4 linked regions of the Homo sapiens genome follow. The protein of the gene in region 1 interacts with the protein of each later gene in a biochemical or structural test. Each region holds a gene or a part of one and is shown on either strand. Other genes may lie near its edges.

Region 1 (3,500 bases):
CCTGCAGCTTCCAGATGTGCTTGCTCTCCTTGGAGACCTGGCCCACTGTCTCGCCCATGAGGGCAATGAGCATGTTGAGGAGCAGCACAAAGGTGAGGATGATGTAGGTCACCAGCAGGATGATGAAGACCACGGGGTACTTGGTGCTGCTCAGCATCTCCAGGTCGCCCATGCCGATGGTCAGCTTAAACAGGTCCAGGAGGAAGGTGCTGAAGGTCTCGCTGTCACGGCACGAGGGGTAAGTGGGCACTGTGCAGTTGGTCTGGTCCTCATTGCACACCTTCATGTTGGCACACGGGTTCAGGAGGGAGACCAGGGCTGTGGGAGGATAGGGGTGGCACTCACTGAGTGTGAGCACACCCACAGAGAGGTGGAGGGTGTCATTCTCATTTGCTGGAGGAGAAAGCTGAGGCCTAGTGAGCGGAGCACGCTGGCCCACACGCTGACCCATGTCACCCTACACATCAGCCAAGCCACACCAGACCCAGGTCCTCCTGATCCCAAAACCTTTGAAGCCTTTCCATAAACTCTTGCTGATAAGGAAGAGGTTATCTCTCTCTCTCTCTCTTTCTTTCTGAGATGGGGTCTTGCTATGTTGCCCAGGCTGGAGTGCAGTGGCTACTCACAGGCTCAATCCCACTACTGATAAGCGTAGGAGTTTTGACCTGCTCTGTTTCCAACCTGGGACAGTTCACCCCTCCTTACACAACCTGGTGGTTCCCTGCTACCGGGAGGGAAAAGGTTTTCAGGATCTAGTCCAGGGAGGGTCTCAGTTTTTCCCACCAGGGGACATTTGACAATGTCTAGAGACATATTTGGTTGTTACAACTGGGGGTGGGGGTGCTACTGGCATCAGGTGGGTGGAGGCCAGGGGTGCTGCCTGACACCCTACAATGCACAGGATGGTCCCCGCCACGAAGAATGATCTGGTCTCAAATGTCAATAGTGTTGGGAAATCCTAATGCGGCCTACCATTCTTAGAGGTCTTGGGGGCTCTGGAATGCCCCTATTCGCAGGGGTAGACTCTCTCTCTGACAGTTTCCCACTCCACCCCAACCCAGAGAGGAAAAGTGGGGGCTGAAACCAGGCATCAGTCCTGACTGTCCCCAAAGCCGTGTTCTCTAAGGGGCCTCTCCTGCTCTAGACATCTCAAACTCATCATGGTTCTCCTTTCCTACTAAGCCCAGGTGGAGCTTCAGATTCCTTCTCAACACAGTTTGGCAGCAACAACCTGTCCCTAAACCAGCCAGGGAGGGGAGCATGAAGAAGACTCAGTCCCATCAGTCAGTGGGGCACAGAATGTCATACTGCCTGCAACCAGGGATTAGAGTATGCAGATTTCAACTCATATGCTAATGTTCTTCAGTTGTATAGTACCTGGTGAAACACTGTGTTGAGAAGGATTCTGAGACCTTGTCTGGACTCACCGGAAAAACTGTTCTGTGATCCATTAGTGATGTCTGCTATGGACACCAAAGTGTGGGAACAGAAGCATGTGTGTCCTGTTTATGTCATGTCAGCCTCAGAATTGAGATCTAGTGCATCCTATAAGGAGAAGACCTGCAACCAAGCTGACTGCTAAGCTGCTACTCTAACCCTTGTTTCTCCTTAGTTTCAATAACTAGGACTGCAGTAGGGCTAGATCCCTGACCTGAATCCCAAACTGTTGTTGAACCCTTGACACTGTCTAGTTTGTCCAGTGTGATCCCTGGGAAGGGAAAGCTGTACCCTGTCCCTATCTCCCCAGTGAAAACTACAATTCCACTTCCCACCAATAATCTACCTAGAGACTTGGCCACTATCGTGGGTTAAAATATCACCCTTGTCAGATTCCTGTGCCAGGCTCGTCCCCAGATGAACCTGCTCAGATGTGTATGTGTCCAGGTCTAACCTGAGTTGGCCATTCCCCTTTGGATGCTGGGCATTGATGTCAGATTACCCACACCTCGGGGATCAGCCCAAGGACTTGGTCAGTTTCTCCAGCCCTGGTCCCTGGTCCTTCTCCCATGACCCATGCCACTGAGGTCCCAGAATGCTTCTTAGTGGCATCATGACATCACGAAGAAGGTATATCAAGGGAGCTGATGTTGGGCTTTAAGAAAATACCTGGGCTGCTAGTTTAATTATTAAATTTTATCCTTCCATGTATCCATCCTCCTTCAATGTGGCTTTACAGCTTCTCCCACTAAGAAGTGGAGTCTAGGCCAGGTGCAGTGGCTCGCGCCTATAATCCTGCACTTTGGGAGGCTGAGGCAGGAGGACTGCTTGAGCCCAGGAGTTCAAGACCAGCCTGGGCAACATAGCAAGACCCTGCCTCCACCAAAAAAAAAAAATGGAAAAAAAGAAGTGGCGTCTATTTCCCCATCCCTTGAATCGAGGCTGGCCTTGTGACTTGCTTTGGCCAACAGAGTAAGGCAGCAGTGATGCCATGCCAGGAGGTGTCCTTGAACACTTCTGCTCATGTTCTTGGAACCCTAAGGCCACCATGTGGACAAGCCCAAGCTAGCTGTCCAGAAATGAGTGACCATGTGGAAGATAGATAGCAAACCCCCTCTAACCAAGTCCATACTAGCTAGACCAGTCAGCCAGCAGCCAGCCTGCCAGCTGACCACAGGCACAAGAGCCTGTAGGGATCAGCCAAACCTGGCCCAGGGCAGCACAGCCACCCAGCTGACCCATTGACTCATAAGCAATAGTAAGTTGGCCTGGTACAGTGGCTCACGCCTGTAATCCCAGCACTTTGGGAGGCCAAGGTGGGTGGATCACTTGGGGTCAGGAGTTCGAGACCAGCCTGGCCAACATAGTGAAACCCCATCTCTACCAAAAATATAAAACTTAGCCATGCGTGGTGGCACACGCCTGTAATCCCAGCTATTCGAGAGGCTGAGGCAAGAGAATCGCTTGAACCCAGGAGGCAGAGATTGCAGTGAGCCAAGAGCACCACTGCCCTCCAGCCTTGGTGACAGAGTGAGACCTTGCCACAAAAAAAATAATAATAATAAGTGGGTGCTATTTTAAGCCCCACTTTAGGTGGCTTCCTTTGTAGCAATAGCTAATACTCCAGTTTTGCCATTCACCAGCTTTTTTTTTTTTTTTTTTTTTGAGACAGAGTCTCGCTGTGTTGCCCAGGCTGGAGTGCAGTGGTGCCATCTTGGCTTACTGCAACCTCCACCCCCTGGGTTCAAGCGATTCTTGTGCCTCAGCCTCCCGAGTAGCTGGGTCTATAGTTGCGCGCCACCATGCCTGTCTAATTTTTGTATTTTTTGGTAGAGACGGGGTTTTGCCATGTTGGCCAGGCTGGTCTCAAACTCCTGACCTCAAGTGATCTACCCGCCTCAGCCTCCTGAAGTGCTGGGATTACAGATGTGAGCCACTGCGCCCGGCCACCATTCACTGGCTTTTGAACTTGTGCTAGTTATTTAACCCTCCTAAGCCTCAGTTTCCTTTTCTATAATAGGGGATAATAAAGGCACTTAGCTTACAGGCTTGTTGGGAGGCAA
Region 2 (3,500 bases), about 100 Mb from region 1:
TCCTCTGTCTGCTTCCTCTCCTCTCTTCCTCTCATCTTCTCTCTTGCTTCCTCCACAGAAGAAGCTGGTTAGTTTGATCTCACGCAAGCTTATTAATGTCCCAGTCCCAGTTTCTAAGCTGCCTAGGCCTCCTGGCCCTCAGTTTGGGCCCGCTGGGCTCTTGAGCACGGATTTTTTTCTGCCCTTTCCCTTTTCCTTGCTCTTCCCCCTTTTTCTCTCTATCTCTTGTTCTCTTGACTGCATTTCTTTCTCTCCCTTCTCCCCCGGCTTTCCAGATCTGGATGTGATTCAGGTTCTCTTTTGTACACATTGCACACTCATCCTCCTTGCGTCCTAAAGCTTTTTTTTTTTTAGTTGAGTCATTTAATCAAAAAGACTTTTTTTAGAAAAAAATTTCCTCTTGAGCCATCATGCACATCTGACTGCAGCCCCAGCGAGCCCTTCCTTCCTTGTCTGACTGCTCTTCTTCTCGATTTCTTCTTGTTCTGCCTTCTCGGTTTGCAGCCCTGACCCCCGCTGTGTGTCTGGCCCTTGGTGACTGTCCGTGTTTCTGTTCCTGTCATTGTAACTGTGACTTTTCTCTCTGTCTGCCCCCCCTTCCTACTGGTTCATGCTTCTCCCCCATTCCCACCCTCTCTGCCCGGCCTCCCGCTCCCGCCCTTTCTCCTCATGCACCCGGCCTCGTCTCTGTAGTCTCTGCACTTGTCTCCCATTAAGGTCCCATCCATGGGGGGGCGGAAGCGGGAGCGCAAGGCTGCCGTCGAGGAGGACACCTCCCTGTCGGAGAGTGAGGGGCCCCGCCAGCCCGATGGGGATGAGGAGGAGAGCACAGCCCTCAGCATCAACGAGGAGATGCAGCGCATGCTCAACCAGCTGTGAGTCCGCAGGCCGTGCTCCCGCAGCACCGACGCCACAGCAGCCCAGGAGGCCGGAGCTCCCCAGTCCCCCGCCAGGACGAGGCCCCGCCCGCCCTGACACCCGGGTTCCCTGTCTCTAGGAGGGAGTATGATTTTGAGGACGACTGTGACAGCCTGACTTGGGAGGAGACTGAGGAGACCCTGCTGCTTTGGGAGGATTTCTCAGGCTATGCCATGGCAGCTGCAGAGGCCCAGGGAGAGGTAACCTCTGCTCCCGGCCTCAGGGCCCTCTGGCTCTGCCTCTCCAGCCTGAAGCCCACTCCCCCGCTCCTCTCCTTGCTCTGTCCCCCCATGTGGCTGTCATCCTCTACCTGCGTCTCCCCTCTTCCTTTATCCTTTTGCTTTTCTTTCTCCAGTTTCTTTAACCAGACTTCCTCTCTCTCTCTCTCCCTGACTTGGCCCTTTGGAATGCGTCCCATCCCATCCCTCCTTGGCTGGCCTCCCCCGCTTCCCTTTCTACTCCAGCAGCAGGAAGATAGCCTGGAGAAGGTGATTAAAGATACGGAGTCCCTGTTCAAAACCCGGGAGAAGGAGTATCAGGAGACCATTGACCAGATAGAGGTAAGGGCAGGAGCGGAAGCCAGGGGCGTGGTGTCCCAGAGGGTTTTGAGTGGGGCTGCAGGCGCAGTGGCCTCATCCCTGCTGCAGGACCCTAGAGACCAAGGTCTTGGGAGGAGGAGTGATCTCTCAGCTATAGTCCTCCTGGTGGGCTCTGAAGACCTCAGGCTCTGGAAACAGACAGATATCGGTTCAAATCTCAGCTCTGTTACTTACAACCACCCTGAACTTGTAATAAGTTACTTGTTCCCTCTGAGCCCCTCCTTTCCTTTCCTTTCCTTTCCTTTCTTTCCTTCCTTCCTTCCTTCCTTTCTCTCTCTCTCTCTCTTCCCCTCCCCCTCTATCCCTCCCTCCCTCTCTCCCTTGTCTTTCTGTCCTTTCTTTTTTGAGACAAGGTCTCACTCTGTTTCACTCTGTTGCCTAGGCTGGAGTGATCCTCCCACCCCAGCCTTCTGAGTAGCTGGGCCCACAGGTGTGTGCCACCATACCCAGCTAATTTTTATTTGTATTTTTTTGTAGAGATGGTGTCTCCCTGTGTTTCCCAGGCAGGTCTTAAACTCTTGGGCTTAAGTGATCCTCCTGCCTCGGCCTCCCAAAGTACTAGAATTAGAGACATGAGCCATGTGTCCAGCCCTACACCTGTTTCTTTTTCTTTCTTTCTTTCTTTCTTTCTTTTTTTGAGACAGGGTCTTGCTCTGTCACTCCAGGCCCACTGCAGCCGTGATCTTCTGGATCCAAGCAATCCTCCTACCTCAGCCTCCCAAGTAGCTGGGACCACAGGCGTGTGCTACCACGCCCGGCTAATTTTTTGATTTTTTTTACAGAGAACAGGGTGTCACTATGTTTTCCAGGCTGCCCTCAAACTTCTGGATTCAAGCAGTCCTCCTAACTCGGCCCCACAAAGTGTTGGGATTACAGGCATGAGCCACTGTGCCGGGCCTTTTTATTTGTAAAATGAGGAATTTAATAATACCTCACCTATAGGGTTGTTTAGAAGATCAGATGAAATAATGCATATATAGAGCTTAGGGCAGTGTCTGGCTCATAGCGAGTGTAGCATAGTGGGGACTGTTTTATTATTATTAACACTATCAGTGCCATGGCACTCAGAGATGGACTGGGACTTTCCTGTTTCTTCCACTCAGCCTTTGAGATAACAGAGAAATCTCCATGCTTTTTCCCAAGCCTTGAAGTACCTTCTAGAGGTACCTAGAGGCAAGTGGAGCTGGTGCTTTAGCTCAAACTCTAGGCTTTAGGAGCTGCAAGAAGGATTTGTGGAGGCCGGGCGCGGTGGCTCACGCCTGTAATCCCAGCACTTTGGGAGGCCGAGGCGGGAAGATCACGAGGTCAGGAGATCGAGACCATCCTGGCTAACACGGTGAAACCCCGTCTCTACGAAAAATACAAAAAAAAAAAATTAGCTGGCCGTGGTGGCAGGCACCTGTAGTCCCAGCTACTCGGGAGGCTGAGGCAGGAGAATGGCGTGAACCCGGGAGGCGGAGCTTGCAGTGAGCCGAGATCGCACCACTGCACTCCAGCCTGGGCGACAGAGCAAGACTCCGTCTCAAAAATACAAACAAAGGAAGAAGGATTTGTGGAACCACAGAATGGAGGTTGCTGTTGCTGTGGGAGGAGGGATGGACGGGACCCCCGTGAGCTCTCCTGGCCTGGTGAGGTGGTCCTTTCCCGACGCTCTGACTTTGGGAGAGGCATGGAGCCTTCTCTGCGTCTCAGCCTCTCTTCAGGCCCACATGGGAGATTCATACGTAGTCCCCCCTTATCTTCAGGGCATGTGTTCCAAGACCCACAGTGGATGCCTGAAACCAAAGATAGCACTGACCTCCTGATAGCTTGGGTCCAGTTGCTGTCAACTGGAACGTGTTTCTGTTCATGTCTCCCACCCACACATTCAATGCCTTTTCTATCTTAACTAAGCACTTAGCGTGCGCTGTGGCGGTACCTTTTGCAGTTCGAGGTGTGACAGCAAAACTGGCACAAATTTCTTTTTCCTTCTTTACAATTTCA
Region 3 (3,287 bases), on another chromosome or scaffold:
TCAACTTAATATGGTGGTATTTAGCCAGGTCAGATTGTCCTAACAAGATACCATAGACTGGGTGGCTTAAATAACAGAAATTTATTGCTTACGTTCCTAGAGGCTGGGACGTCCGAGATCATGGTTTGGTTCCTGGTGAGGGTTCCCTTCCTGGCTTGCAGACAGCTGCTGTTTTGCTGTATCTTCACATGATGGAGAGAGTCTCCTGTCTCTTTGTATAAGAACACAAATGCCATCATAAGGGGACCAACCTTGTGACCCTATCTAGCCTTAATTACCTTCCAAAGGCCCCATCTCCAAATACCATCACATTGGAGGTTAGGGCTTCAACATGTGAATTTGGGGTGGGGGGGCGGGTGTGGATACAAACATTCAGTCCATAACAGGTAGGACTGAATAACTCAGGGAAACTGATAAACTTTTTCTTGAAGAAGGATGTAAGGAATGAATTTTAGAACTTAGGAACTAAAGGGATTATGTGCTTTTTCAAAAAGTCCAAGTTTACAGAATATTTGATAAACTTTATTGAAACGATTTATCCCAGTATATATTGGTAAGTTCTAAATGCTTCCAGTACATAGTCTTCAAAAGAAACTTCACTGTGCTGTTATGAATTTGGATAATATTTTGTATTATTTAAATACCAGTGTTAAAATTCATTGCTTTTATACTTATAAAAATGGAAAAATAGGGCAATTACAATGTTGGATATTTTAGCATTAGAAAAAAACGTAAATACCTGATTTCATGTGACAATGAATGACATTCAAATGATTGTTAGAAAGGTAATTTTCAAGCTTTTAAATGTAACTAAAACCAAATATAATAATTCATCCAAAAAACTGAAAAAAAGACATTTGAAATTACAAAAATTTTTATGTTATACGTGTATATACATTTGAAAAAACAATTCTTAAATGGATTGATCTGAAAATTTGAAACCACTGAATCAAAAGCTTATCTTTCTGAGTAGAGGTGAAATTTAAACTTCTAAAAACTGCTATATACACCCACCAAGAAGCACCAATAATTCATTCTTAAACCTTACTTTCTGAATGTATAGACTATAATATTTGAAACATTTTAGGCCAATTAATTGCTTTGCATCAATTAAAACATACTGAGTGTAGAAAAGGGAGTAAAACCTCATATATATAGATTCTAAGAGGTGTCTGTCTTACGAATGTAATAATTTGGGCTGGGCGCGGTGGCAAACACCTGTAATCCCAGCACTTTGGGAGGCCGAGGCGGGTGGATTACGAGGTCAGGAGTTCGAGACCAGCCTGGCCAAGATGGTGAAACTCCGTCTCTACTGAAAATACAAAAATTAGTCAGGCGTGGTGGCGGGCACCTGTAGTCCCAGCTACCCAGGAGGCTGAGGCAGGAAAATCATCTGAACCCAGGAGGCGGAGGTTGCAGTGAGCTGAGATCGCACCATTGCGCTCCAGCCTGGGCGACAAGAGTGAACCTCCATCTTAAAAAAAAAAAAGAACTTAATAATTTGTTACAGCTATGTTAGCAAAACACTGCTGGTGGTATTTCTTAATACATATATTTTTTTGAGATGGAGTCTCACTCTGTCACCCAGGCTGGAGTGCAATGGCACAATCTCGGCTCACTGCAACTTCTGCCTCCCAGGTTCAAGTGATTCTCCTGCCTTAGGCTCCCAAGTAGCTAGAATTACAGGTGCGCATCACCACGCCCAACTAATTTTTTGTATTTTTAGTAGAGATGGGGTTTCACCATGTTGGCCAGACTGGTCTCGTACTCCTGACCTCAAGTGATCCGCCCACCTCAGCCTCCACAGTGCTGGGATTACAAGTGTGAGCCACTGCACCCGGCCATTACAATCTATTTTTATCTAGCCTCTAGAGCAGGTGTCCTAAGTAAAAGACAAAAACAACAACAAAAAAACCCATTTTTTTGTTTTGTTTTGTTTTTTGAGACAGTCTCACTCTTGTTACCCAGGCTGGAATGCAGTGGCATGATCAAAGCTCACTGCTGCTTCAACCTCCCAGGCTCAAGCAATTCTCCCACTTTAGACTCCTAAGTAGCTGGTACTATAGGTGTCTGGCTAATTTTTAAATTTTTTGTAAAGATGGGGTCTTGCTATGTTGTCCATGGTAGTCTCAAACTCCTGGTCTCAAGTAATCCTCCCTGCTTGGTCTCCCAAAGTACTATGAGTATAGCTCTTTTTTTTTTTTTTTTTTTGAGATAAGAGTTTCACTCTCATTGCCCAGGCTAGAGTACAGCAGCATGATCTCATCTTACTGCAACCTCCACCTCCTAGGCTCAAGCGGTTCTGCTGCCTCAGTCTTCCGAGTAGATGGGACTACAGGCATGCGCCACCGCACCCAGCTAATTTTTGTACTTTTTGTAGATATGGGGTTTCACCATGTTACGCAGGTTGGTCTCAAACTCCTGAGCTCAAGTGATCCGTCGGCCTCGGCTTTCCAAAGTGCTAGGATTACAGGCATAAGCCACAGTACTTGGCCAAAATTCTTTATGTGTTAATGAAGGCTTTCCAAAATACTTAGTTATGGCTTAAAATAGTTTACTTAGCCATGTCTTTTTTCTAGGTTGACCTTTCTGAATGATCAGACTGCAAGATAGAGTTTAAAATTAATAAAATATGTTTTATTATCAAATTTCTAATTCATTCATTTTTTATAGGGAAGAACTTATAGAACTGAATTATAGTGGAGAAAAATCAATACAGGTTGAGTATCCCTTATCCAACATGCTGGGACCATTAAGTGTTTCAGATTTCAAATTATTTTGGATTTTGGAATACTGGGCATTACACCAGTTCAGCATCCCTAATCTGAAAATCTGAAATTCTAAATGCTCCAATAAGCATTTCCTTTGAACACTATGTTAGTACTCAAAAAGTTTTCAATTAGGGATGTTCAATCTGTAGATCTAAGAATGACCAAATTAAAATATAAGAATAAGGCTGAGTGTGGTGGCTCAAGCCTGTAATCCCAGCACTTTGGGAGGCCGAGGCGAGTGGATCACCTGAGGTCACTTTGAGAACAGCCCGGCCAACATGGTGAAACCCCGTCTCTATTAAAAATACAAAAAGTTATCCGGGCGTGGTGGCGGACGCCTGTAATCCCAGCTACTTGGGAGGCTGAGGCAGGAGAATCACTTGAATCTGGGAGGTGGAAGCTGCAGTGAGCTGAGATCGCACCACTGCACTCCAGCCTGGATGACAGAGTGAGACTTGGTCTCAAAAAAGAATATAAAAATCTTTGCCTCTGAATACTATTTTCTCAATTTAAAAA
Region 4 (3,108 bases), on another chromosome or scaffold:
ACAGGCCCCAGCCCTCACCATCATCCTACTCTGGCCAAGGCAAATGACATCACTGAATCTTCCACCGTGGTGAGAGTCCATTTCCCAAAGAGGAGAGTGGCAAAGTGAAGTCTGCAGGGAGCAGGAGCTGGGGGGACTGTGCAGGGACAGGCCCGCTCATCACCTGGCGAAGCACACACCTGTGATCCCTGCACACCAGCGATGCTGCCCCTGGGCAAGCCCCCAGAAGGAGCTTCTGCCCATGTCAGCAGAGCCAGCCACACAAATATACAGAGGCTTGATGTGTAATGCAAATGGGTAGCACCTAGCTACCATCCAAAGAAACACAGTGAGTGCACGTCCTTTCAGGAAGCACCTAGCTACCCATCCAGAGAAACAGTGAGAGTGCACCTCCTTTCAGGAAGCACCTCGCTACCCATCCAGAGAAACAGTGAGAGTGCACCTCCTTTCAGGATGCACCTAGCTACCCATCCAGAGAAACAGTGAGAGTGCACCTCCTTTCAGGATGCTCCTAGCTACCCATCCAGAGAAACAGTGAGAGTGCACTTCCTTTCAGGATGCTCCTAGCTACCCATCCAGAGAAACAGTGAGAGTGCACCTCCTTTCAGGGAGCACCTAGCTACCCATCCAGAGAAACAGTGAGAGTACACCTCCTTTCAGGGAGCACCTAGCTACCCATCCAGAGAAACACAGTGAGTGCACCTCCTTTTAGGGAGCACCTAGCTACCCATCCAGAGAAACTGTGAGAGTGTGCCTCCTTCCAGGATGCACCTGGCTATCCTCCAGAGGAACAGTGAGAGTGCACCTCCTTTCAGGAAGCACCTGGCTACCCATCCAGAGAAACAGTGAGAGTGCACCTCCTTTCAGGGAGCACCTGGCTATCCTCCAGAGGAACAGTGAGAGTGCACCTCCTTTCAGGGAGCACCTGGCTATCCTCCAGAGGAACAGTGAGAGTGCACCTCCTTTCAGGGAGCACCTAGCTACCCATCCAGAAAAACAGTGAGAGTGCACCTCCTTTCAGGGAGCACCTGGCTATCCTCCAGAGGAACAGTGAGAGTGCACCTCCTTTCAGGGAGCACCTGGCTATCCATCCAGAGGCAATGAGGGCACCTCCTTTCAGAGGCAGGCTGCAGGCAGGGAGAGGAAAGCACTATAGCTGTGGCACCAGCAGGGACTGACCCCAGCAAGGCTGAGAGAAAAAGCAACAGAGGCTGCTTGCACCATGGGACAGCTAGGAAAATGCAAAAGCCGGAAAGGTGAAAAGTACCCTTTAAGATACAAATTGGTACAACTACAGAGGAGGACCAAAGGAATAATTGACGTAAAACTCAGCATCATCATTTCCTAGGGTTGTGAGCAGAGAGGGCTGAGGCTGAGAAGGGGCAGCTGAGGCTCAGTGTGTGAGTCACAGCCCCTTCTGACCTGGGCACAGGCAGGTGGCCTCTTCTCGTTACCATTTAAACTGTGAAACTGTGCGTTATGCACAATTCTATGTATTTACAGGCTGAGTGTCACTTATCTGAAATTCTTGGGACCACAAGTGTTTTGGATTTTTTTTTTTAATGTTGGAATATTTGCATTGCACTTGCCGGTTGAGCATCCCAAATCTGAAATCCAAAATCTGAATTCCTCCAATGAGCACTGCCTTTCAGCATCACGTCGACACAGAATTTGGAGCATCTGAGGCCAAGGCAGGCGAATCACTTGAGTTCAGGAGTTCGAGACCAGCCTGGCCAACATGATGAAACCCCACCTCTACTAAAAATACAAAAATTAGCCAGGCATGGTGGCTGGTGCCTGTAATCCCAGCTACTAGGGAGGCTGAGGCAGGAGAATAGCTTGAACCTGGCAGGCAGAGGGTGCAGTGAGCCGAGACTGTGCCACTGGACTCCGTCCTGGGTGCCAGAGTGAGACTACGTCTCAAAAAGAAAAAAAAAAAATTGGAGCATTTCGCATTTTGTTTTTGGATTTGGGGTCCTCAACATGTACAATCCCATATATCATAATAAAAACATAAATTAGGAAATGAATGGCAAAACTAGAATTCCTTAATCCTTGTGGGTGGACCTGCCAAAATCTGAGTGCACGGAAGCCACCGTCAGGTCGGCCTGGGAGGAAATCACAGAAATGGAGCCCGTAGGAACAGTTCTGCTCTACAAGCTTCCTGCAAAGCGTTTTCTCTGTTAGTATTTCCCCCTGGCTGACATAGTAACCCACATAGAATCTAAGGCTGTGGTTTACTGAACTTAACAGGACGAGGAGTTTTCCGCGTCACTGCAGGCTCTGCACACACCACTTCTGCTGGCTGTGTTCTACCCATTACCGGCAATGCCACCATTTTATTAAATGGCCCAATCCGTCATTACGAACTGCGGGTCACCTCCTGTTTCGTGCTGTTAAAAATTAAATGCTGTGGCAAATGTCTTCTTGCATCATACTTTGTTCCTAGCTTAGGCTGTTTCCTGGGCCAATTCCCTGGATTGGGAATCCTGATTCCAGACACACAAGCATGTTTTAAGGCCTCCAATCCCTAACGGGACTGTGTCCAGAAAGGCCATGTGTTCCAGCCTGAGCTCTTACTGACATTGCAATAGCACAATGGAGCCTTTTCGGATCCCCGGCTTCCTTCTTCACAATATAAAATACAGAAAGGAAAGACGGAGATCCCGGCTTCCTTCTTCACAACATAAAATACAGAAAGGAACGACGGAGATCCCGGCTTCCTTCTTCACAACATAAAATACAGAAAGGAATGACGGAGATCCCGGCTTCCTTCTTCACAATATAAAATACAGAAAGGAACGACGGAGATCCCGGCTTCCTTCTTCACAACATAAAATACAGAAAGGAATGACGGAGATCCCGGCTTCCTTCTTCACAATATAAAACACACAAAGGAACAACGGAGATCCCGGCTTCCTTCTCCACAATATAAAACACAGAAAGGAATGATGGAAACTAATTCTGGCAGTAAACAGAATATAAAAACATAAGATTCTCCTTGGACTACTAAGGTAAAAAATGGAAAAATATATAAATTGATAATTCCAATTAAACAGTCTATTAAGTCATTATAATACACTGAAAAACCACAGATAATATGAATTG

Evidence for each region.
Region 2: the proteins of TRPV4 (region 1) and IFFO1 interact in a test that uses a peptide from one of them, tested with the Homo sapiens proteins (one large-scale study listed by BioGRID).
Region 3: the proteins of TRPV4 (region 1) and TMOD3 interact in a test that uses a peptide from one of them, tested with the Homo sapiens proteins (one large-scale study listed by BioGRID).
Region 4: the proteins of TRPV4 (region 1) and ARHGEF10 interact in a test that uses a peptide from one of them, tested with the Homo sapiens proteins (one large-scale study listed by BioGRID).

What each region holds. Positions count from the first base shown.
Region 1 is NC_000012.12:109,788,399-109,791,898, forward strand, and holds part of TRPV4 (transient receptor potential cation channel subfamily V member 4), read right to left. Parts: intron 345-3,500; coding exon of another isoform or gene 319-344; coding exon 2-318; intron 1-1. UniProt on the Homo sapiens protein: Non-selective calcium permeant cation channel involved in osmotic sensitivity and mechanosensitivity. Activation by exposure to hypotonicity within the physiological range exhibits an outward rectification.
Region 2 is NC_000012.12:6,546,043-6,549,542, reverse strand, and holds part of IFFO1 (non-homologous end joining factor IFFO1), read left to right. Parts: intron 1-58; coding exon 59-67; intron 68-693; coding exon 694-875; intron 876-997; coding exon 998-1,118; coding exon of another isoform or gene 1,119-1,382; coding exon 1,383-1,478; intron 1,479-3,500. UniProt on the Homo sapiens protein: Nuclear matrix protein involved in the immobilization of broken DNA ends and the suppression of chromosome translocation during DNA double-strand breaks (DSBs).
Region 3 is NC_000015.10:51,912,939-51,916,225, reverse strand, and holds the end of TMOD3 (tropomodulin-3), read right to left. Parts: 3' UTR 501-3,287; downstream 1-500. UniProt on the Homo sapiens protein: Blocks the elongation and depolymerization of the actin filaments at the pointed end. The Tmod/TM complex contributes to the formation of the short actin protofilament, which in turn defines the geometry of the membrane skeleton.
Region 4 is NC_000008.11:1,952,926-1,956,033, reverse strand, and holds part of ARHGEF10 (rho guanine nucleotide exchange factor 10), read right to left. Parts: intron 1-3,108. UniProt on the Homo sapiens protein: May play a role in developmental myelination of peripheral nerves.